Linked DNA regions of Homo sapiens: all the other regions are linked to region 2. The links come from fine-mapping of genetic effects on gene expression. A gene starts in region 2. Each other region holds a variant in brackets. All regions are shown on one strand. Distances are between the middles of the regions.

The links. PIP is the estimated chance that this variant, and not a neighbour inherited with it, causes the effect.
Region 1: its variant is fine-mapped to the expression of NME4 in whole blood (TOPMed, PIP above 0.99).
Region 3: its variant is fine-mapped to the expression of NME4 in whole blood (TOPMed, PIP 0.95).

What each region holds. Positions count from the first base shown.
Region 1 is chr16:528,221-536,392 of GRCh38, forward strand. CAPN15 (calpain 15) reads left to right here. Exons shown (of 14, transcript NM_005632.3): 2 at 5,726-5,778; 3 at 7,809-7,922. It overlaps MIR5587 (microRNA 5587), which reads left to right and starts at 7,096; the gene lies at 7,096-7,148. The variant C/T (reference allele first, on the strand shown) is at 3,233.
Region 2 is chr16:392,663-400,801 of GRCh38, forward strand. NME4 (NME/NM23 nucleoside diphosphate kinase 4) reads left to right here and starts at 4,537. Exons shown (of 5, transcript NM_005009.3): 1 at 4,537-4,651; 2 at 6,328-6,461; 3 at 6,717-6,818; 4 at 6,965-7,077; 5 at 7,557-8,092. The coding sequence starts at 4,561. The coding sequence ends at 7,680. LOC100134368 (a long non-coding RNA gene) reads left to right here. Exons shown (of 3, transcript NR_024453.2): 3 at 1-298. RefSeq lists enhancers at 4,128-4,177, 6,447-7,032, 8,046-8,139 and silencers at 4,468-4,957, 5,098-5,167.
Region 3 is chr16:353,271-361,442 of GRCh38, forward strand. No RefSeq gene overlaps it. Among named protein-coding and RNA genes, the nearest start is that of AXIN1, 4.6 kb to the left of the region's middle. RefSeq lists a silencer at 1-121 and an enhancer at 7,604-8,172. The variant G/A (reference allele first, on the strand shown) is at 4,985.

The DNA.
Region 1 (8,172 bases), 140 kb after region 2:
GCCTCCAGGCTGGTGGGGGCCAGGGCTGGGCGATGCTTCGCAGAGGAACCCAGAGGAAGGCGGGAAGTCGGCAGGGACCTGGGCCATGTGGGTCACTTGAGGCCAGCCCCGGGGGCCGCGCACACCGGAGGCGGCCTCGGCCCTGCCTGCCCTTGAGTGCCCTTATATCCGGGCCCATCGTGCGGTCCTGGCCGCCTTAGGGATGTTGTGCTTGGTGCGGGCATCACTCCCCTCACTTGGGGAACGGCCTGGGGGCGGCCACCTGGCGTGGAGGGGCTGGCGGGAGCCCCGTCTGTGCCAGCCATGCCAGTGTTCTCTTCCGTGTTCCTCTGGGGCTGCTGCGGCACCAGCTGGGAAGTTGCAAATCTGCTGTCCTCCCGCTGGCTGCAGAAGGGGCCCCTCTAGTCCTGACCGGGGGAACTCTTGTGTGGTCAGCTGGCCCTGGCCGGGCGAGCTCTCGGGGCCCCCTTACTGCTCTGGAGTTTGTTACCGGACTGCAGGTAACAAGACCCGGAAAGCAATGGTGAGGCCCAGAACCTGAGGCCAGGCCTGGGTGTGTGGGGCCAGTGGGGAAGACTGGGACTCCGTTGGGTGCTGAAGAGTTGTGTGCTTCTCCTTCGGGAAACCCGGATCTCTTCCTCTGCCCAGGTCTGAGGGGTGCGGAAACGTGAGTCACAGTTCAGTGTGGGAGTGCCCCGTAATTGCCTCCGCGTTTCCAGAGTCTGGGGCTGGGCAAGGATATAGGGGTGATTCTCCCTTCCGGTTCTGAGTGACTTCTCAACTGTGAAGTGGGGCAAGAGAAATTGTTTTTCTGGCCTGTCTGGGGGAGGCAGGTCCTGCAGGAAACCAGCTTGGCCTGGCCTTGGGTTGGGTGTGCCTTGCCTCCTCCGAGGTCCTTCTGCTTGCGGGAGGAGCACCCCTCTTTTTCCTGCTTCTGTCTGTGTCTGAGGCTCTCCAGAGCTCCTTGATTGGCAGAGGAGCCAGTGACCTCTGAGTCCCCAGGAGAGCCCGAGGCTCAGTAACTGCATAACTGCGCAGGGCCTCTTGTCTGGGCCTCCACAGACCGTGGTCTCTGAGAGCAGGAAGTGGCTGGTCCCCTGTAATGCTGCATCTGTGTGACAGCCTCAAGCCCTGCTGGCTCTCTCTCCGGGCACCCCTCACTTGCTTCTTGCCCTGGCCTTGGGCAGCACTCCGGTAACCCCAGTGCCACAGGTGAGGAACCGAAGCTGGAGACAGCTGTTCATGGCAGGGGAGGGGCCGAGGGAGGCTGAGCGCCTGGTCTCTCCCTCCTGCTGGTTCCACCAGTTCACACGAGGCAATTGGAGGGAAGGATTCTGCTGCCCGGAAAATCCTCCGGAACCACAGGTGTTGTTCATGGGCCTGAGCCGCTCAGTGAAGAACTCGGCCGTTGGTGGCCGAGTTGCCCCTGGTCCAGCCCTCTGGCCCGCGGTGTGATGCCTCTACTCATGGCAACAGGCGTGGACAGGTGCTGAGAAGGAGGACGACATCATTAAACAAAACAGCTTGGGGTCTTTGAAAAACAGTGACAGAAACCCAGGAAGGCTGGTGACTTGTCAGGTCTGTGTCTGTCCTGGGTGGCCACTCGGCCCTGGACCGTGAGGCTGAAATGACAGGAGACACGGAGGGTGGGCTTGGGTGGTTTCCTCATAAGACACAGAAGAAGGAGGCCCCCAACCCGGGGGCTGCCTCGTGCGCTTTGCTCTCCTGTTTTCCTGCTCTGTCCCTCTGGTCCTGCCCTCTGACCCCTGGCACAGCAGGAGTGCCCAGAAGCCCAGTGGGACTTGTTCTCTGCCTAAAGCCCTTCCGCATCCCTCGTACCCACTCGGTGTGGATGTGGGTTTTCTCACCACCAGGCTGTGCCTCAGCTGTGTGGAGCCACTGGCCTCTCATGCCCCACGCTGGAGAGAACGCTGAGGTCTGTGCGGTTCTCATGTGACCCTGTAGCTGGTCCCTGGCTCCCCACTGTGGGATCTGCCTGCAGCACTTACACTTGGGACCGCCCTGTCTCCCTGCTGGATGTGGCGCCGAGGGCAGGGTCCGTTTCTGTTTCTTGGTAGGCCTAGTGTCTAGCGCTATGCAGCCGTGCGCAGAGCAGGCGGTCAGTGAGCACCTGGGGTTGGCCCTCACCACAGGCAGTTCTGAATACCTGGGTTCTGGCAGCCCAGGGGGACTCCTGCGTGCTCCAGGAAAGTAGCACAGCAGCCCCTGTGGCGTGGACACGGCCACACCTGAGCTCGGCCTGTTTCTGAGTCTGAGAGAACAGGCTTGCTGGCCTGTGATCTTTGCATGTGTGTCTCGCTGCAGGGAGGCTGTGGGTTGGGGCTGGACCTAGACCCGTTCAGCCACACCCTGTCACTATGTGGGTCACACACAGCTGGGTGGAGACCTCCCGGTGCGTGGCCCAGGGAGGTGTCTGGGCGTGGAGTCTGTGGACAGCCACATTGTACCACTAGGACAGGGGCTGCTGCTGGGCCCACAGGGTGCACGGAATGGGGTCTGTGGGAGGATGGGGGCATCCTAGCCCAGGGCAGGGACCCCGTGGGCCCCCCAAGATGAGCTGCGTCAGGCTGTTGCTTTGCACACTCTGAGGGGCCTGCCTGAGTGCTGCATGGGAAGCCAGCAGTGTGGCCGCCCTCCCCAGAACTCATCCAGGGCACCAGGGTGGACCCATGAGTCCCGTCGGGTCATGGGCATCAGCCTCGCCATCCTGGCCTCCAGATACAACGATTTGTCAGATTCCCTGAGGTCAAAGGGAAGCTTCAAGGGTTGCCATCCCCGCCTCCCTGGCGGTCCTAGACGGGATGTCAGGAGGACGCAGGGCCATCGCTGCTTTTTAAATGTCACAGTGACTGCAGCGTCTGCTCCTCTGTGGAAGGAGCTTGCTCCGCTAATGAGGGAGTTCCTCCTCATGGCCTTCCCCTCACTTCTCTTCAAAAAGTTGCCCTTTATTTTAACATTTTTTAAGTTTTATTTTTTTGAGCCAGGGTCGTGCTCTGTTGCCCACGCTGGAGTGCAGTTGCAATCATAGCTCGCTGCAGCCTCAAACTCCTGGGCTCAAGTGATCTTCCTGCCTCAGCCTCCCAAATACTGGGACTACAGGTGGGCGCCACCACACCCAGCCTCTGCCCTTTGTAAGTGAAGTCCCCCAGGCAGGTTGAACCTCTTACACCTTCTGCCCCTGCCTGATCCCCACTCCCTACCCCCCACCTCC[C/T]TGTCCCCTGTAATGAGAAAGGCAATAAGTTTTGGAGCTTTCTGGAGTTCCTGCCCCTCCTGAAAAGGTGGCTGCAGAGAGGCTGGAGCTGATGGGGAAAGAGGTGCCACGAGGCCTCCTCTGGGTTAGGGCCACACGGCTCCCAAGGCCCCCGTCTCCTTCTCTGGGGTGACAGGTGCCCCCAGGGCCACACGGCTCCCAAGGCCTCCGTCTCCCTCTCTGGGGTGACAGGTGCCCCCAGGGCCACACGGCTCCCAAGGCCTCCGTCTCCTTCTCTGGGATGACAGGTGCCCAGGGCCACACGGCTCCCAAGGCCCCCGTCCCCTTCTCTGGGGTGACAGGTGCCCCCTGTGTCCCAGAGGCTTCTGCTTGGCCACCAGTGAGGTCACCGGGCTGCCCAGACCAGGGCTGCTTCTGCCACCACATGGCAAGCAGAGAAGTAGAGAAGTGCCAAAAACCACGAGTGCTTGTCTGGTCCTTTTTTCCTGTTAAAAATAGAAGTCGGGGCTGGGTGCGGTGGCTGACACCTGTAATCCCAGCCCTTTCAGAGGCCGAGGCAGGTGGGTTGCCTGAGGTCAGGAGTTCGAGACCAGCCTGACCAAAATGGCGAAACCCCATCTCTACTAAAAATAAAAAAATTAGCTGGGTGTGGTGGTGTGTGCCTGTAATCCCAGATACTCAGGAGGCTGAGACTGTAGAATTGCTTGAACCTGGGAGGCGGAGGTTGCAGTTAGCCGGGATGGCACCACTGCACTCCAGCCTAGGCGACAGAGCTATACTCCGTCTCAAAAAAAAAAAAAAGAAAAAAAAGTAGAATTCGGTTGGGCTCAGTGGCTCATGCGTGTAATCCTAGCACTTTGGAAGGCCAAGGTGGGTGAATCACATGAGGTCAGGAGGTAGAGACCAGCATGGCCAACGTGACGAAACCCCCATCTCTACTAAAAATACAAAAATTAGCTGGGCGTGGTGGTGTGTGCCTGTAATCCCAGATGTTTGGGAGGCTGAGACACTAGAATTGCTTGAACCCGGGAGGCAGAGGTTGCAGTGAGTCGAGATGGCACCACTGCACTCCAGCCTAGGTGACAGAGTGATACCCTGTCTCAAAAAAAAAAAAAAAGCCAGCCGCTGTGGCTCACGCCTGTAATCCCAGCACTTTGGGAGGTCAAGGCGGGTGGATCACCTGAGGTCAGGAGATTGAGACCATCCTGGCTAACACGGTGAAACTCCATCTCTGCTAAAAATACAAAAAAATTAGCCGGGCCTGGTGGCAGGCGCCTGTAGTCCCAGCTACTCGGGAGGCTGAGGCAGGAGAATGGCGTGAACCCAGGAGGTGGAGCTTGCAGTGAGCCGAGATCACACCACTGCACTCCAGCCTGGGCAACAGAGCGAGACTCTGTCAGAGAAAAAAAAAAAAAAAACAGGTGATGCCTGTGCCACTGGACACACCTGCACACCATCCTCATGCTGATCACAAAAGAGGGTGAGGGGCCGGGCATGGTGGCTCATGCCTGGAATCCCAGCACTGGGGGAGGCCGAGGCGGGTGGATCACCTGAGGTCTGGAGTTCGAGACCAGCCTGACCAACATGGTGAAACCTCGTCTTTACTAAAAATACAAAAATTAGCTGGGCACGGTGGCGGGCGCCTGTAATCCGAGCTACTTGGGAGGCTGAGGCAGGAGAATAGCTTGAACCTGGGAGGCGGAGGCTGCAGTGAGCTGAGATTGCACCACTGCACCCCAGCCTGGGTGACAGAGCGAGGCTCTATCTCAAAAAATAAAATAAAAAATTTAAAACCAACAAAAAAGAGGGTGATGGCTGAGTGAGGAGTCCATGGTGGGCCCTACACAGGGCCCAGGAAGGACAGGGCGGGAAGCGTGAGCATCCTGCCCACCGCAGTGGGTCCGCCATGGAGAGCATGACCTTAGAGAAGCAAAGCCGCCTGGCTCGAAGCAGTGGCCGCCCTGCTGACAGCTGTAGTGGCCGGGTGGCACTCGGGCTGGGGTCCGGGGGAGTCTAGGTGGCCACCTGGCTGTGTGCCTGTGCCTGCCCAAGCTGGGCACCTTTCCCTGGCAGTGCCTGGGAAGCTCGGCCGCCCTCCCTGGCTGGTGCTGCTCTGCAGCCCCGCTCATGGACTCTTGCCCACGGCCTGCTCCTTGTAGCAGGGTCGGGCCGTGGGAGGTCCGGACAGGATCTTGAATGGCCCTGTCTGCGGTCCTGGCTGGCCGGAGGTTGACCGCACTGGACAGGTCAAGGGCCTTAAACCAGGGTAGTGAGGAGCCTGCTGAGCCCCTGCTGCTCCCCGGGCTGCCTTTGGCGCTCGGACAGACACCCAAGGACAGAAGCTCGGACAGCTTCTAAGGCGAAGGGTCTCCCGGGGCTGATTTCCCGGGACTCTGGCTCCTGCAGAGAGGGCTGGAGGCGGGGCTCTGTGTTCCAGGGTCAGAGTCCTCCTGGTGGAAGCTGAGGTGCCTGATTAAATGCCTCCCTTTCTAGGCAGCAGCCCAGACGCGGCACAGAGAGGGCCTGGGAGCTTGCTGCAGCTTCAGGTGAGTTTGTTCCCAAGCCCTGCGGCTCGTTTATGGGTTTGCTTGCGCTGCAGAACTGTTTGTGGAGCAGCAGGGTTGGAGTGCCCACGGCTGGGGGGCCTCTCGGAGCCCTTGATTCACAGAACCCCTGGAGGCCGGCAGCCCTGCCTGCCCTGAAGAGCCTCGTTCTCCCAGCCGTTTGGGCCGTGGTCCTGTCGTGGGAGGCGACGGTGAGGGCGGCCCGGGGTCCCGACAGGGGTGTTTGTCCCTTTGGGGACCTCCCCTGTGCTGTGGCCCCGGCCCCCAGATGGAGCTCCCCATCCCCACGGCAGCGCTGGGGCTGGGGCTGGTGAGGAGCCTGTGCACGGCCCCCACCGCTATCCTCAGCCAGGAGGGTGCCTGGTCCCTGGGGAGCGGCCTGCACCTGTTTCTGGAGAATGCTGTCCTGCCAGTTGTCATTTGGGGCGGGCGGTCGGAGTCCACGTCCTCCCCCAGGGCGGGGCCCTGGCCTTGTTTCTTGTAGGGACGATGGGAAGCCCTGTCCTCAGCCCTCCCACCCGACTCATGCAGGAGCTTCCTGTCCTTGGGGTCATCTCCTCCACAGGGGCCTTAGCGTCAGTGGGGACAAAGGCAGAGTTGCCTGTCTTCAGGTTGTGGGCACCGACTGAGCTTCGTCCCGGTAGTGGCTGGCTCTTGTTTCCTGCCTGGACCAGCAGCCTCTGGTCTGGTGGGTGCAGTTTTAGGGCGCAGTGGGGTTGCCGTGGGGCAAGGCCAGGCCACCAGCTGCCTGGACACAGGGGCCCCCGCTTTCCATCTGCTGCCCCCCACACCCCCAGCTCGGGCAGGGGTGACACCGGGGCATCCTTGTTGGGGTCGCTGTGGTTCCCATGGTGGCAAGATGGCTCTGTGAAAGATTGACGGAGATGTAGGGCCCAGGAGCAGGTGCTGTGTGAGTGGGACACGCCTGTGTCACCTGCGGGGCAGGGGAGGGCTCGGGGGTACAGCCGTGTACATGATTAGTTAGCGAGACAGTGAGGAGTGTATGCGGAGTGGACACAGCTGTGGGTGCCGCCCGCGCAAGGCTGGGGGTCGCTGTGCCAGCCCTGCTCCCATGTGGGCTCCCAGCTCCCCAGGTAGGGACGCTGACCCCGGGAGGTGCCTTTGCCTGCATCCACTGGAGCCTCAGGAGCATGCGTTCCGTCCCCACGGGTCACCCCCACTGAGCCCACCACCTACCGAGAGGCACCTCGAGACCCTGTCCTGCCACGGGTGGGCTGTCAAGGCCAGCACCAGAGACCCCCAGCAGACCTCAGTGGCCGCAGATGGAGCGGGGCGGCAATGGTCACCTCCGGGACTCAGCCCTGTGCTGAGCCCCGGGCAGTGTGATCATCCTGGCCCTTCTCGTGCACGTCCCCTGGCTGGATGCTCCTTGCTGCCCTCACGGGGTGTGTGTGTGGCATACAGGACAGGGACCGGCCAGTTGGCCCTGCTCATTAACCACTTGTCCCCACAGGGCAGTGGCGGCCTCACCTCTGCAATTCTCTGAGGCTGGATCTAGGCCACCGCCCCGTTTAAAACTAGGGCATCGGCTCCCAGGGAGGGCGGGGAGCTGCACAGTTGGACTTGTGGGGGTCAGGCATGGATCCACACAGCCCGGGGCCCTCCGCACCCTGCCCCTCCAGGGAGCCCAGAGGCGGGCGTGGCTGCAGCCTGGCTCTGTGGCAGTCATGAGTCACGGCCACTCTTGAGGCGCCGCCCTGAGAGTCAGCCCTGTGGTCACGGCTCCTGCTGGTTCCCATTCGCGAGCACCTGAAACAGCCTGGCCCACAGCAGAGGCCCGGGGGGCACATGCAGCTCACGGGAGCAGCACAGATGCTTGGCCGGCGGCAGGCCCTACAGGAGCAGCAGCGGCCCAGGGCATGTCCCTGGGGTCAGGGGTCAGAGTTCGGCATGCTCTGCGGGGGCCTCACCCTGCTGTCCCTCGGCCTGGCCTGGGCACACTCCTTGGTGACAGTGCCCCTGCACGCCCCCCCCCCCCCCCGGTTATTCAGACAGGGAGCCAGGATGGGAACCACGGACTGACCTGACCTGCGTCCTCGGGGCCACTGCACTGGGTGATTCACGTGTGCCCAGGCCCTGAGGTGGGCCGGACCTGGGAGTGGCAGGTGAGCGTTCCTCCCAAGAGCCTCTGGCTGGCCGCAGCAGGCCCTGTCCCTGCTGTCCTCAGTGGCCCTGGACATGATAACCCCCCTGCCGAGGTCTGGCCGGAGCCAGCACCCACGGCCGAGATGCAGTCAGCCCTGGCTGGGCGCTGTCCCTGGGGGTGGCTGCTGGTGCTGCCCTCCCTCCTTCCCACCACTTCTTGCTCCTCTTTCCTGGGGCCCTCCCATCGGAGTCTTCCTCCTAAATGCAGTT
Region 2 (8,139 bases):
CTCCTGGGCTCCAGCAATCCTCCTGCCTCAGCCTCCTGCAGATTCACTTCTAAGCCCACCTATGTTGCTTTTGGCCAGAAACATCAGTTCCTTGTCATGGGGGCCTCCGCACAGGGCTGCTCACAACAGGGGAGCTGCTTCTCCCAGGAGGTGGCGGAGCAGCAGCAGCTGCAGTCTTTGGTGACCAGATTGTGAAAGTGACACTCCGTCTCTTTTGCTGTGTCAGAAGTCAGTCACCAGGCATGGTCCACACTCAAGGGGTAGGCATTACACAAGGAAATGAACTGGGTTTTGCTTTTCTTGTTGAGTTACGAGAGTTCTTTTTTGTTTTGTTTTGAGACAGGGTCTCATTCTGTTGCCCAGGCTGAGTGCAGTGGTGCGATCACAGCTCAATCCAGCCTGGACCTCTTGGGCTCAAGCAATCTTCCCACCTCAGCCTTCCCGGTAGCTGGAAATACAGGCGCACACCAACACGCCCCGCTAATTTTTTATTTTTTTGTAGAGACAGGTTTCACTATGTTTCCCAGGCTGGTCTCAAACTCCTGGCCTCAAGTGATCCTCCAACCTCTGCCTCCCACAGTGCTAAGAGTACAGGTGTGAACCATCCCATCACGCCTGGCCAAGAGAGTTATTTATTTATTTATTTATTGAGACAGAGTCTTGCTCTGTCTACCAGCCTGCAGTGCCATAACACAATCTCAGCTCACAGCAACCTCCGCCTCCCAGGGTCAAGCAATTCTCCTGCCTCAGCCTCCCAAGTAGCTCGGATTACAGGCACCTGCCACCAGGCCCGGCTAATTTTATATTTTTAGTAGAGACAGGGTTTCTCCATGTTGGTCAGGCTGGTCTCAAACTCCCAACCTCAGGTGATCCACCCGCCTCAGCCTCCCAAAGTGCTGCGATGACAGGCATGAGCCACCTCGTCCGGCCCAGCATAATTTTTTTTTTCTTTTTTTAAGATGGAGTCTTGTTCTGTCACCCAGGCTGGAGTGCAAGGGCACGATCTCAGCTCACTGCAACCTCTGCCTCCCGGGTTCAAGGGATTCTCCTGCCTCAGCCTCCCGAGTAGCTGGGATTACAGGTGCATGCCACCACACCCAGCTAATTTTTTGTATTTTTAGTATAGACAGGGTTTCGCCATGTCGGCCAGTCTGGTCTCGAACTCCTGACCTCAGGCGATACACCCACCGCAGCTTCCTAAAGTGCTGGGATGACAGGCGCGAGCCACTGCGCCCAGTCTCAGCATGTTTTTAATGTGCAAAATAAAATACAAGGAAATAAAAATATAAAAAACTATACTGAAATAAATTATCAAAATATTGTAGGCCAGGCCGGGCGCAGTGGCTCACACCTGTAATCCCAGCACTTTAGGAAGCTGCGGTGGGTGTATCGCCTGAGGTCAGGAGTTCGAGACCAGACTGGCCAACATGGCGAAACCCTGTCTATACTAAGAATACAAAAAATTAGCTGGGTGTGGTGGCGAGCACCTGTAATCCCAGCTACTCGGGAGGCTGAGGCAGGAGAATTGCTTGAACCCAGGAGGTGGGGGTTGCAGTGAGCTGAGATCATGCCCTTGCACTCCAGCCTGGGCAACAGAGTAAGACGATGTCTCACCAACAAACAAACAAAATATTTTAGGCAGCGGGGCGTGGTGGCTCACACCCGTAATCCCATCACTTTGGGAGGCCAAGGCGGGTTGATCACAAGGTCAAGAGATCGAGACCATCCTGGCCAACATGGTGAAACCCCATCTCTACTAAAAAACAAAAATTAGCCGGGTGTGGTGGCGCGTGCCTGTAATCTCAGCTACTCAGGAGGCTGAGGCAGGAGAATCGCTTGAATTGGGAGGCGGAGGTTGCAGTGAGCCAGGATTACACCACTGCACTCCAGCCTGGCAACAGAGTGAGACTCCATCTCAAAAACAAAAACAAAAACAAAAACAAAATATTTTAGGCCAAGTGCGGTGGCTCAGGCCTGTTTTCCTAGTTACTGGGGAGGCTGAGGCAGGAGGATCGCTTGAGGCTGGGAGGTGAAGGCTGCAGTTGAGCTATGACTGCACCACTGCACTCCAGCCCAGGTGACAGAACGAGACCCTGTTGCTAAAAAAACAAAAATAAAACATTAAAAAATGTACGATATAGTGGCCGGGCGCGGTGGCTCATGCCTGTAATCCCAGCACTTTGGGAGGCTGAGGCGGGCAGATCACAAGGTCAGGAGATCGAGACCATCCTGGCTAACATGGTGAAACCCCGTCTCTACTAAAAATACAAAAAAAAAAAAAAATTAGCCAGGCGTGGTGGCAGGCGCCTATAGTCCCAGCTGGAGGCTGAGGCAGGAGGATGGCGTGAACCCGGGAGGCGGAGCTTGCAGTGAGCCGAGATCGCGCCACTGCACTCCAACCTGGGTGACAGAGTGAGACTTCGTCTCAAAAAAAAAACAGAGTACGCTATAGTAATATCTGCTTTTTCCTTTTTGCAATAGCTTTATTGGGATACAATTGACATACTATACACTTCACTCATATATTTTTTGTTTATTTACTATTTTTTTTCAAGAGACAGGGTCTTGCTATATTGCCCTGGCTAGTCTCAAACTCCTGGGCTTATGTGATCCTCCTGCCTCAGCTTCCCAAATTGTTGGGATAATAGGCCTGAGCAAGAGTCCAGCCTCTAAAAAGAAAGAAAGTCACTTCTTTATACCATAGTACTGCAAATTCTAGTCAGAGCAACTAGACAAGAAAATAAAATAAAAGGCATTCAGATTGGAAAGAAAGAACTGAAACCGTCTCTATTCCCATATGACATGATGTTTTTTCTTTTCTTTTTTTTTTTTTTTTTGAGACAGAGTCTTGCTCTGTTGCCCAGGCTGGAGTGCAGTGGCATGCTCTCGGCTCATTGTGAGCTCCACCTCCTGGGTTCAAGCCATTCTCCTGCCTCAGCCTCCTGAGTAGCTGGGATTACAGGCATGCACCACCATGTCCAGCTAATTTTTGTATTTTTAGTAGAGACGGGGTTTCACCACGTTGACCAGGCTGGTCTTGAACTCCTGACCTCGTGATCCGCTCGCCTCGGGCTCCCAAAGTGCTGGGATTACAGACATGAGCCAGTGTGCCCCGCTCCATATGACACAATCTTATACAAAGAAATTCCCAAGGAATTAATTAAAAACTATTAGAACTAATAAATGCATTTGGAAGGCTTGCAGGATACAAGATCAATACACAAAGCTCAATTGTTGGCCAGGCGTGGTGGCTCACGCCTGTAATCCCAGCCCTTTGGGAGGCCAAGGCGGGTGGATCACCTGAGGCCACGAGTTTGAGACCAGCCTGGCCAACATGGCGAAACCCCGTCTCTACTAAAAATAAAAAAAAACACCAGCCAGGTGTGGTGGCAAGCTCCTGTAATTCCATCTACTCGGGAGCCTGAGGCAGGATAACTGCTTGAACCTGGGAGGCGGAGGCTGCAGTGAGCAGAGATATGCCATTATTGCACTCCAGCCTGGGCAACAAGAGCGACACTCTGTCTGAAAACAAACAAACCTCAATTGTCTGTTATACACTTGCAATGGACAATTCAAATAAGAAAACAATTCCATTCACAATAGCAGCAAAAAGAACAGGCTTTTTCAAGACTCATTAAGTAAGTTCTAGCAGTGGGAGACCTAACCATTTCAAATAGTAGCATGCTGTGCTATCTACCCAAATATTACCGTACCTGTGAATTCTGTTGGTGACAAAGTCACAGGCCCTGCAACTATGAATGTGGCTTCTTCCTTATATCCGCAATTGAATGAATTAGAGGAATGCAGTCACATCAGAGGCCATTTGAGAATAAAGGTCGGATTTTTCCCCATTCAAATTCACAGACCAGGCTCACATCTGTAATCCCAGCACCTTGGGAAGCCAAGGCAGGAGGATTTCTTGATCCCAGGAGTTTGAGACCAGCATGGGCAACATAGGGAGGCCCCATCTCTACAAAAAATTAAAATATTAGCTGGTTGTGGTGGCGCGGGTCTGTAGTCCCGCCTACTCGTCCTGGCCGCAGAGTCAGCGTCTCCGGAGCGCCTCCTTCTCCCGCCCTGGGGCTCACGTGGGAATTTCACCCTCCATTGGAGGGGGCTCAGACCAGGGCTTCTAGACCTCCTTTTGGTCCGTGAATTTATTTTTGAGACAGAGTCTTGCTCTATTGCTCAGGCTGGAGTGCAGCGGTGCAGTCACAGCTCACTGCAGCCTCAATCTCCTGGGCTCACGCGATCCTCCTGCCTCAGCCTCCCGAGTGGGCCTTCCTCCGTGGGAAAGCGTTAAAACGATAGTTAACGGTTGCGTCGGTGTAAAGACGAATGCAATTCGAGAAGGATTCATTATTATTTTGTTTTTTCTTCTGATTTTTAACAGAAATTGGCGTTGAACATTTCCCCCGTGAGCGCCGGGCCACGGGGGTCCGGGGCGGCGGGGGGCTCCGGGGCGGCGGGGGGCTCCCGGGCGGGCGGGGGCGGGTCTCGGGCTGGCACCGCCCTCCGCGCCCGCTCCTCGCGCTCACAGCGGCCCGCGGGCCGGGCGTCATGGGCGGCCTCTTCTGGCGCTCCGCGCTGCGGGGGCTGCGCTGCGGCCCGCGGGCCCCGGGCCCGAGCCTGCTAGTGCGCCACGGCTCGGGTGAGTGGGGCCGCGCGCCCCGGCGGGGACGCGGAGGGGAGGAAGGGGCGCGCGCCGCTCGGCCTTTGTGCGCGCACGTGCGGGCTGGGGTCCGACTCCCCCAGAGGCCTCGGGGCGCGGGCTGCGGGGTCCGTCCGAGTTGGGGAAGGCGCCGGCTCGCACCCGCACGCCCCTCCAGTGCCCGTCCGGCTCTGCGGCTCCTTCTCGCCTCCCCAGGCCCCAGGCTGCAGGCGCCCGGCGAGTTGGCAGCCTGGGCGGGTCCGGGGCGACCGAGGGCCCGGGAGCGCAAGGAAGGCAGAGGCCGGCTGCAGCACTGGGCGGGGAGGGGGTCTCCCGGCCGGGGTGGGGGTGGGGGTGTGGGGGGGTGAGGGAGTCGGGGGGTGGGGGTGGGGGTGTGGGGGGGTGAGGGAGTCGGGGGGTGGGGGTGGGGGGAGCCGCTCCGCTGGGGCGTTCGCTGAAGGCCAAGTTAGGCCAGAATCTGACTGGGACGTCAGGCCCCAAGTCCCCGGCCCCGCCGCTGCCCGGCCCCCCCAGCTGCCACCTCACAGGACGATCCATGTCCCAGGGCTCCCTCCATCGGCTCTGAAAAGTGAGCCGCCGCCTGCAATGCCCGCACCAGCCGCAGCAGAGCCCCAGGCTACACAAGGCGCCCTGCAAACTGGGTTTTGGGGGAACAAACCAACCAGGGGGTCTTCCTCCCGTGGGCTTCAGCCGCCTGCTGGGGTTAACTTTTCCTCCTGGCCTGGCGGAGCCCCTTTGGCTCTGTCCAGATTCTGTGGGACATACAGGGTCTGGGCTCCTCTGGAAACCAGGGACCCGATGCCGGAGGGTAGCTTGGCTCTGGAGCAGCCTGGGACTATAGGAAGGTGAGGACGTCTTCTGTTTCCCTGGCAGCGTCCCCTCCAGAGGAGGACGGCTGGGGCGGAGCTCAGCGCTGACCCTGGGTCTGGAAGCGACAGGCCTTGAAACTCCACAGCAGCACAGGCCCCGTCTCCTGGCTCGGACAGAACCCTGCTACCTTCCCTCTTCAATCTTCAGGCCCCTTTTTGTCCGTGTTTCCAGGGCTCACCTGGTGGGGAAAGTGTGTTTCTCCCTGGTTCCCTGCCACTCATTCACCTCAGACACAGGGTGGGCTCTGGGTTCTTCCTCATGTGGAAAGTCGGGGCTTCAGACCATGTCTGTCGTCATCCAGAAGGGATGGAGTCAAAAGTGAGGCTGGAGTTTTGCAGGATCTCCAGACTTCCCTGAGGCCACTGAGCTGGGCTGTGCCTCTGTGGACCTCAGGGTGGTCGCTGAGCTGGGCTGTCCCTCCCTGGACCTTGAGGTGGTCCCTGAGCTGGCTCTGCCTCTATGGACCTTGCGGTGGTGGTCCCTGAGCTGGGCAGTGCCTCCCTGAACCTCGGGGCGATCTCAGGCAGCCTCTGCCTCTGCTGGGAGGAGCCATGGCCCCTGGGAGAGGCTAGAAGCCCTGGGGACACATTGCCTTGGGTGTCCCTGACAGGGACTATCATGGGGGTGTTTGTGGCTGTGGGCACCATCCCTGTCCCTTCCAGAGTGCCCTGCATAGAGGCAGACACCCTGAAGCCTGGTGACCCCTGGGCTCTGGCTGGGAAACCCGGGTCGTGGGGACGTGAAAGGGTGAGGTGGCAGTGCCTCTGACCTCTTGCCTTTTGAAGGAGGGCCCTCCTGGACCCGGGAGCGGACCCTGGTGGCGGTGAAGCCCGATGGCGTGCAACGGCGGCTCGTTGGGGACGTGATCCAGCGCTTTGAGAGGCGGGGCTTCACGCTGGTGGGGATGAAGATGCTGCAGGTAGTGGGACTCTGGGCTTGTGGGTGTCCCTGTGGGGATGGGGTTGGGGGATCCTTCTCGGCCTTTCACATCCCAGCCAGCGCCGGGGCAGGGCCTGGCTTTGGCAGTTGAAGGGGCAGGAGGGATCTATTCTGCGGTGGGGGTGCTGCCCATGCTGGTGTTATCTGCAAGGTGCCTGAGGTCAGGGCATCACAGCTGCTGTGCTAGTGCCCACGTTTACTGTCTGCGGCTCCTCCTTACCTCAATGCCACCCAGGCACCAGAGAGCGTCCTTGCCGAGCACTACCAGGACCTGCGGAGGAAGCCCTTCTACCCTGCCCTCATCCGCTACATGAGCTCTGGGCCTGTGGTGGCCATGGTACGGCAGGGCAGGGGTGGTGGAAGGGCCTGTGGGTAAAGGGCGTGTGGGTGTGTCTTTCCCCCCAGCAAAGGGAGGGGCCCTGGATTGAGCCCAGGGGCCCTTGGTGTTCCCCACTTCTCCCCAACCATTATCTCTCGCTGCAGGTCTGGGAAGGGTACAATGTCGTCCGCGCCTCGAGGGCCATGATTGGACACACCGACTCGGCTGAGGCTGCCCCAGGAACCATAAGGGGTGACTTCAGCGTCCACATCAGCAGGTACGGGGGTCCTGATACACCAGGCTGCTGCTGGGGGCAAGGAGGGCCATCACTTGGGGTGGTGGCAGATCCACGAGACCTGGCTGTCTTGCTGTGCTAGGATGAAGCCAGGTCGGACATGACAGCTCACACTGGTGAGAGCCGTGTTCTCCCAGGGCACACAGGGCAATGAGGTGTTCCCTTTGTGTTGTGTGTACCGTGCCATCGTTGCCTGTTACCTGACACCCCAAGGGGTTGGCACGGGGCAACTTGGGGGGAAATGAGGCTCCCAAAAGCTGGGGCCTGGGCGGGTCCACGAGGCTGTAAGAGGCCGAGGCCAGGCTGGAACCCGGTTTCCCAGCTCCACTGTTACTCCTTCCCTGTCTGCAGTCACAGGCTTGCTCCCCTAGACAGAGGGCAACGGGAGCAGCAGATGGTCCCTGGGATTCCTCAGGGTGCACATGAAGCCTGAGCCTCACATTGCTCCTGTCCTGGCACAGGAATGTCATCCACGCCAGCGACTCCGTGGAGGGGGCCCAGCGGGAGATCCAGCTGTGGTTCCAGAGCAGTGAGCTGGTGAGCTGGGCAGACGGGGGCCAGCACAGCAGCATCCACCCAGCCTGAGGCTCAAGCTGCCCTTACCACCCCATCCCCCACGCAGGACCAACTACCTCCGTCAGCAAGAACCCAAGCCCACATCCAAACCTGCCTGTCCCAAACCACTTACTTCCCTGTTCACCTCTGCCCCACCCCAGCCCAGAGGAGTTTGAGCCACCAACTTCAGTGCCTTTCTGTACCCCAAGCCAGCACAAGATTGGACCAATCCTTTTTGCACCAAAGTGCCGGACAACCTTTGTGGTGGGGGGGGGTCTTCACATTATCATAACCTCTCCTCTAAAGGGGAGGCATTAAAATTCACTGTGCCCAGCACATGGGTGGTACACTAATTATGACTTCCCCCAGCTCTGAGGTAGAAATGACGCCTTTATGCAAGTTGTAAGGAGTTGAACAGTAAAGAGGAAGTTTTGCACACCCAGTTCCATAACGTTGTTGGATGTATGAGCCAGGCAGGGGTCCAGAGAC
Region 3 (8,172 bases), 39 kb before region 2:
GTCCTTGGAATGGCCGCGGCCGTGGGGAGCACTGGGCGGACTGCGCGCCCCGAAGGGCGCACGTGGGGCGCAGCCCTTTTCTGCCGCCAGTACATCGGAGGGCAGTCAGGGGGCTGCAGGCCTCGGGGCTCCCTGCCCAGCCGGCCCTGGAGAGGAGGCCCTCGTGGGGACCGCCACGGCCTGCCCGCCGCCGTGAGGGAAGCAGGCTCCCAGGAGTGGGGTGGTCGGCAGGCAGGGATGGCCAGGGCCCTTGGAAGGTGGGGTGGGCTCCACCCTCCTGAGTCCCAAGGCAGCCTGGACTCACAGCGCCAGGGAACACGTTAGGCCCCAATATATGGTGGCTCTCACCCGGACAGGAGCCACAACCTCCAAAGAGCCCACCGGCTAGGACCCTCTGCCTTGATTTCTCCCAGGCACCATCTAGTATCAGAGAAGGGTTCTCCTTCCCTCCGCTGCCCAGGCCAGCCCGAGAGCAAGGCCATTGGAGTGTCCAGACCCCTGCACCCCTTCCCCTGGGCTGTCTCCACAGCGGCCCTGCCAAGGGGTCCAGTCCGATCCTGCCACCCTGGCTGCCCAGATCCGTGTCACTTGCCCTGCAGGCCACAGAGCATGAGGTCACAGCCCCAGGCACCCCACGGCAGAGAGGCACGGGCCCCCAGCAGCAGCCCCAGCACCAGCTCTGGCCAGCCCAACCCTGTCAGAACCAACCCTCTGCTCTCCACCCAGGCCTCAGCCAACCATCAGGCCCTCCCCAAGGAGGAGGATGTGAGTACCAGGATCTGCCGCCTCCCACAACAGCCCAGGGCCCTGTCCTTCCCAGAGCACTATTGGGCCTGGCACCTCCCGGGATGCTCCAGGCAGCCCCCTGGGGTCAGCTATACCCCCGTTTCACAGAGGAGACAGCTGCAGTTCAGGCCACACAGGACCAGCTCGCCTCCTGTTGGGTGAGGGCTCCCCACCTCGTCCGCCCCACACCTGAGACAACAGCCCTCATCTATCTGCCCTCTGCTTTAGGCCTCCCAGGGCTCCCTGCTGCCCACAGCCCTTCAGGGCCCTTCCTAAGGGCGCCTCCCCCACACCTTCCCCTAGATGCGTCTGGCCACTTGCCCGCCTCCGTGCTTCCGTGTCCATCATGTCCATACCTGCCAGCTCCCTCCAGGCACCTCTCACGTCACCCCCATGTCTTTCCCTGGGCTGTGTCACCCTGGATGCCCAGCCTCACCCTTCAGAGCTCCCAGGCAAGCACAGAAGTCCCAGCTCCAGGCTCCCCGAGCTTCCAGCCTACCCCCAACCAGATGCCCACAGGTGGGACTGCATGGGGAACCATGTGTGGAAGCCTCCCAGCCCTCGCCCCTGCCAGCACTCAGCATGGTGTCTGATGCCAGCATCGCTGTGTGGGAAAGGGGGTAGCATGGGACAAGGGCCACTAGGCTGTCCCCAGCCTGCCAAGGGCCCAGGCCCACCTCCCAGGGCCATCACTGTGCTCAGAGCAGGTGGGCAGGGGCTGGGGATATGAACGAAGCTGCACTGTTAGACCAACACCTGGCCCCGCTGGGTCCTGGCCGCAGGCACCCTGCCAGGTCCCACAGTGCTGGACACTGGGGCCTCCCCGCAAGCCCCCTAGCCCATTCAGCCTCAGAACCTTAGAGGAGACAGAGTGGGTGGCCTCCATGGTAAAGCACAGTTTCCAGGGATGAGGGAGTCCTGGGTGGCCAGACAGACAGCAGGACCTCAGACACTGGCCCCTGGGCTGCCCCCCGACTCCCAACAAGGTCCCCAATGCTTGCCTTGGTTCTGCAGAGCTGCTGCTGTGTCCGGGCCAGGCTCTCGGGGCTGTGTCCACGTCCATCCTCCTCTTGGCCCTCGGTGGCAGGTGTCCCCAGGCCCTGGGACCAGAACAAGGCCCTTGGGCCTCCAGCTCCTCGGGGCCCCTGCCCTGCAGGGACAGGAAGGGGGTCAGAAAGCCTGGAGGAAATGCAGCAGCCCTTCTAAAGTAGGTTGTGGTGTGGGTGTGGAGGGGAGATTCTCTGAGCCTAGTGGGGGTAGGAGGAGACCAGAGGCAGGCCAGGCAGAAGAGAGGTAGAGGAAGGCCCTGAGGAGGGGCAGGGAGGCGCGCGGGGGCCTGTGGTGTGCAGGGTGAGGTTCAGCCACCTCCCTTCCTCACAGAGCTCCTTGAAGAGGCAAACGCCCTTTGCTTCGAGCGTGAGTTTGCCACGAAGGCTTTTATTTGATTGACCGTAGATGACATTTAATCAGGTTTTGTTTCTAGGCACCAAATGAGACACTTAAGAGCAGACATGGAATTATTTTCTTCAATGTAGACATAAAAGGTATGTTTTTTTGTTTGTTGGTTTTTGGAGACGGAGTTTCATTCTGTTGCCCAGGCTGGAGCCCAGTGGCGTGATTTTGGCTCACTGCAGCCTCCACCTACCATGCTCAAGTGATCTTCCCACCTCAGCCTCCCGAGTAACTGGGATTACAGGCGTGTGCCACCACACCCCACTAATTGTTTGTATTTTTGCTAGAGACAGGGTTTCATCATGTTGCCCAGGCCGGTCTCTAACTCCTGAGCTCAAGGGATCCACCTGCGTTGGCCTCCCGAAGTGCTGGGATTACGGGCCCAAGCCACCATGCCCAGCCTAAAAGGAATACCTTGAAAATAAAGTGGCTGGCCCGGAGCGGTGGCTCACGCCTGTAATCCCAGCACTTTGGGAGGCCGATGCAGGTGGATCACGAAGTAAGGAGTTCGAGACCAGCCTGACCAACATGGTGAAACCCCATCTCTACTAAAAATAGAAAAATTAGCCAGGCGTGGTGGCGCACACCTGTAGTCCCAGCTACTCAGGAGGCTGAGGCAGGATAATTGCTTGAACCTGGGAGGCAGAGGTTGCAGTGAGCTGAGATCGCCCCATTGCACTCCAGCCTGGGTGACAGAGCGAGACTCTGTCTCAAAAAAATAAAAATAAAGAAAAGGCCAGGCACGGTGGCTCACACCCGTAGTCCTAGCAGTTCGGGAGGCCAAGGCCAGAGGATCACTTAAGCTTAGGAGTTCAAGACCAGTCTGGGCAACATAGTGAGACCTTGTCTCTACTAAACAATTTTTAAAAACTAGCTGGGCGTGGTGTTGCGCACCTATGGTCTCAGCTACTCGGGAGCGCGAGGCAGGTGGATCACTTGAACCCAGCGGTTGGAGGCTTTAGTGAGCTGTGATTGAGCCACTACACGTCAGCCTGGGCAACAGAGTAAGACCGTGTCTCCAAGAAATAAAAATTAAGAAAATAATAAAGTGAGTTTTGATGCCTTAAGTGTGTTTATCCATTTAACTGAGGAAGACCACTTATAAAAAATGACCCAAAGGAAACCCTGGAAGACACCCCAAGGACATTAGCTGGGGAGTGTTTGCCGCTGTACGATGTGTGATGGAGACAGCCAGCTGCAGAGATGGACACTGTGCAGCCACCGACCCTGCATCAGTGTAAGGGGAGCGGGGGAAGAGGACGGACGGTTCTGATCCAGGGTTCTGGAGGCTGAGGGAAGCCTTGGGTTCAGCCTCTTCCAGTCTGCCCCTTCTCTGCCCCCTCCGCTCAGTCCATAGGTGTGAGAGGTGGGAGTGGGCAGGCAGGGGAGGCCGCTGGAGGGGAGGGAGGCCCCTCGAGGGGGAGGGAGGCCTTGGACCATCCCGTTCAGGCGAGGGAGGACTGCACTTTCCATCGCAGGCAGAGCCCCCACCACCCTCCACCGCCTTCCAGGCTGTAAGGCGAGCCCCAGCTCTCATCCCTGAGCCTTCTTTTTCCATCAGTTCTGAGCCCACAGGAGAGGCCAGATGCTGCCTGTGCCCCCATCCCAAGCCCGACAGAGAACAAGGAGCTACAACACCCCAGAGACATGCCGCCAGGCCACGCACACAGGGCACCACTTTTCCTGAAAATAGAAAATGTGGGCGGGGCGCAGTGGCTCACACCTGTAATCCCAGCACTTTGGGAGGCTGAGGCGGGAGGATCACTTGAAGTCAGCGGTTTAAGATTAGCCTGGGCAACAATGCAAGACCCTTTCCCTATAGAAGCATTGTTTTTAATTAGCCAGGCATGGTGGCGTGCACCTGTGGTCCCAGGTACACGGAGACAAGAGGATGGCTTGAGCCCGAGTGGTCAAGGCTGCAGTGAGCTGAGATGGTGCCACTCCACTCCAGTCTGGGTGAGAGAAAGACCTGACACTGGGCCAGGCGTGGTGGCTCACGCCTGTAATCCCAGCACTTTGGGAGGTCAAGGCAGGCAGATCGCCTGAGGCTGGGAGTTCGAGACCAGCCTGACCAACATGGAGAAACCCCATCTCTACTAAAAATACAAAATTAGCCAGGCGTGGTGGCGCATGCCCGTAATCCCAGCTACTTGGGACACTGAGGCAGGAGAATCGCTTGAACCCGGGAGGCGGACGTTGCAGTGAGCTGAGATCGCGCCACAGCACTCCAGCCTGGGCGACAGAGCGAGACTCTATCTCAAAAAAAAAAAAAGGGCAAGAAGACTCAAAACAGTCCACGTGTTATTAGTGGAAGCAGAAGCATGAAGTTCCATTTTCTTCTTTGCATGTTCAGGAATGTCTACAGGGATGTAACAGTTATGGTCCCGTGGAACGGTCTGTGTAAGTTAACCCACTGAAGGAGACGGGCATCACGGCTGAGGCCCTGAGGGGTGGAACTGACCACTGGGCAGTGTGTGTCCAGCAGGGTGATGGTCACGGCTGATGGCAGCCACATCGCCCCACGGTGGCCTGGGGCCTGGCATGGAGGTTCTGCCACCTTCCTGAGAGACACACCCTGCCAGGGGCTTCCTGGGCCATCCCAGCTGTTGGTGTCACTTTGGGCTGGGGCCTCCCCGGCCTCCACATCTGGCAGCCCCCTTAGCACTGATGTGCCCCTAGATAGGTCCTTCCTCCTCTCCCCCTCACACCTGTCGGGCAGGTGTGTCATCCAACTATGTTGCAACAC[G/A]CTTCCTATTTGGAGTGGTCCACATAGCTCTGTAGCCAAAGCTGCCTCCGCAGGGCAGATGCCCCAGGAGTGATCCTGGTCCCCACAAAAGGCAGAGGCCTGGGGGAAGGGGAGCAGGGCCCTACCTCATATGCCCTGGCTCCAATATCAGGTCAGTGTGACTGTCACCATGGCCATGGATGACCTGACGGCCTCTGCCCCCGGGACCCACCATTGGCTGGGCACCTGTGGTCAGGAGGACCCACCCACAGAGAGGTGGAGGGTGAACCACTCAGCCGCTGCGGGGCAGGGGCCCAAAGAAACGGGTGCTGTGTGTGGCCAGGCTCGGTGGCTCACACCTGTAATCCCAGCACTTTGGGAGGCTGAGGCGGGTGGATCACCTGAGGTCAAGAGTTCGAGACCAGCCTGGCCAACATGGTGAAACCCCGTCTCTACTAAAAATACAAAAATTAGGCCAGGCACAGTGGTTCACGCCTGTAATTTTAGCACTTTGGGAGGCCAAGGTGGGCGTATCACCTCAGGTCAGGAGCTCGAGACCAGCCTGGCCAACGTGGTGAAACCCCATCTCTACTAAAAATGCAAAAAATTAGCCAGGTATGGTGGCAGGCCCCTGTAATCTCGGCTACTGGGGAGGTTGGGGCAGGAGAATCACTTGAACCCAGGAGACAGAGGTTGCAGTGAGCCAAGATTGTGCCAAGGCACTCCAGCCTGGGCAACAGAGTGAGACTCCATCTCAAAAAAAAAAAAAAAAAAGAAAAAGAAATGAAACGGCTGCTGTGGCCACAGTGCTTGGTCCCCGCTGGCTCCGGGTCCATACTTGTCCCCTGGGGCAGGCCCCAGACCTGCCGTCACCCACGTCGCCTGCGCCCAGCCCCGTCCAGCAGACCTGACAGTCCCCACATCCCCGCTGGCCTCCAGGGGTCAAGGGTCAGGACGCCAAGGCCAACAGGAAAGCACTGGCAACAGGGCGGGGGCCTGGCCAGCCAGGCGGCCCAGAGGCGGTCCCCTCCATCCCAGGGTACTGTCCACACCTCCCAGTGTCCTGAGGGGAGTCCTCCTGCACTGCCTTTCTGAAGAGTTCTGACCCCAGGGTGTCCAGGGGCTGGGACTGGGGCCAGGTGGATACCAGGATGTGGTCAAGTAGGCCTGCCTGGAGGGTCCGGCCGCAGGGGCTGGGGAAGTAGGAGGGGAGGGCGGCCACCACTTCCCAACTCGGGAGCTGCTGACATCAGGGGACTGTTGGGCCTGGCCTGGCACCTGCCTCCCAGGAGACCTGAGTGCCCATCCTTGTCTTGGGCCAGCCTGTAGCCCTAGGCAAAGCAGGCACCTCCTTGTGCCAGTGTCCCCCTGGGCAAAGTGATCGTCCTGACCTGGCCTCACAGCCCCAGAGGTCCGTGTGTGACCCTCTCTGACAGGCCGGGTGGCGGGATGGAGCCCACGGCTGGCCATGGACCAGGTCTGGTGTCCCAGGCACATTGTGAGCACAGGGCAGGGCCTGCTGGCCTCCCCCAACCTCAGTGCTGTTTTCCCAAAAAGAGGTGGCATCCAAGTGCAGGGGCCATGCCCCGAGGGGCCTCGCGCTGACTTCGGGAAGTAGCAGGTGACGTCCCACCTCCCTGGGCAGCCTCAGGCCGCTTCCTGTCCTTGTTGGGGGGACTCCTGCCCCTGCCACACCGACCACAGTCCTTGTCCCTGCTGTTCCCTCACCTGAACGCCCTTCCCTGCCCTGACGGCCTCCATCCCACACGCCTCTCCGGGCGCTGCCGCCCCCCCGTTGGTGCTCATCTGTCCTTCTGCCCACTATCCCCAGCGGCCCCGATACCTGCACACCCCAGTGCCCAGCGGTTCCCCCTCGAGCTGGCAAGGGGACATTAAATGGGAGGTGAGGAAGTGCGGCCCCCAGCGGGCAGCTGCCTTTGCCCCGGCCCACCTGCGCCCCCGCCCACCTGTGCCCTCCGCCGCCTCCCTCTGCTTGGCTGTCCCAAGATGTCTCTCTCCACTGCCTAGGAACCCTGAGGCCGCGGCCAAGTTCTGAGCGTGTGACTGTGTGTGCTGGGCCCCAGGCCCCTTTGTCGCCGCGGCGTCTGTCGTGGCAAACAAAAGTGAACCGGATTAGCCACAGTGGATTAAAAGATTTACGTCTCAGAGTTTACCTAATAACCTAACAATCGTGTCAACGGGAGCTTTGAACCCCCAGGGCGCGCCTGCCAGGCCAACTGAGAGCTCAAGGCCTCTGTGGGCAGCAGGACGTGGTCGGGGGGAGGAGACGCAGCCACGGCTGTCCTCACACCCAGCTCGGCCCCTGCGGGCTCCTCTGGGCAGAACCTGGGGAAGGCACGGCCTCTAGCAGGAGGTGGAGGCCTTTGAAAGGGTGCAGGTGTTGGGACCAGGTACCCGGCCCAGGCCCCCAGCCGCGTCCACACACGTCGCACACGGCAGCAAGGACGCAAGCAGTGTGGAGGTGGCCGCGTCGGCGACGTATGGGCCCCGTGGTGCTGCGGTGCACGACCTCTGTGCTGTCACCCCACAGTGTCCGCTCCTGCACGTACACGCGTGCACGCGCACACACGTGCACACGCACACACACACAAGCACGCCCCGCTTTGATCTCTAAAGGAGAGTCCATTGACAAGCTCTTAATCGCAGCTGCCCTTGCAGGGCCTGTCCCTGAAGTCCCGAGTAATGGGATTTGGCGCTTCTGATCCATCGGGCTGGCCGCTTCCCGTGTCATAGGTGGACATTTTTTTTCTTTATATCGCTTCTGTTTCTTTTTTTTTTTTCTCCTCGAAAAAATGCTGCTTAAACGGCACCGACTTGACATGGCTTGTCTCCTAACCTTGGAGTGGCGGCCGGGACGCCGGCCTGGATCAGTCGGGGGTCTTTGATGCCGCCTCCATGTGAAACCTGACGTGGAAGACCCACCGGGGCGGTTTTGGGGTCCGAGGTCCGTCAGGATTCATCCTGCCTCACCCTGCTCCCTTTGTCTCTTCCCCTGACCCTTCCTCGGGACACCCGGAGAGGGTCTGAGGGTGAGGGTGCGGGCGCTGCGTGTGGGCTTGCACTCGAGGGTGGGGTGGGCCGAGGGCAGGGCCGCAGCCGCGAGAACAATGGGCAGAGGAGGCGCGTCCACCTGTCCGCCCGGCCGCCTGCCCGGCTTACCTCACCTGCCTGGCTCCGTGTGCCTGCTC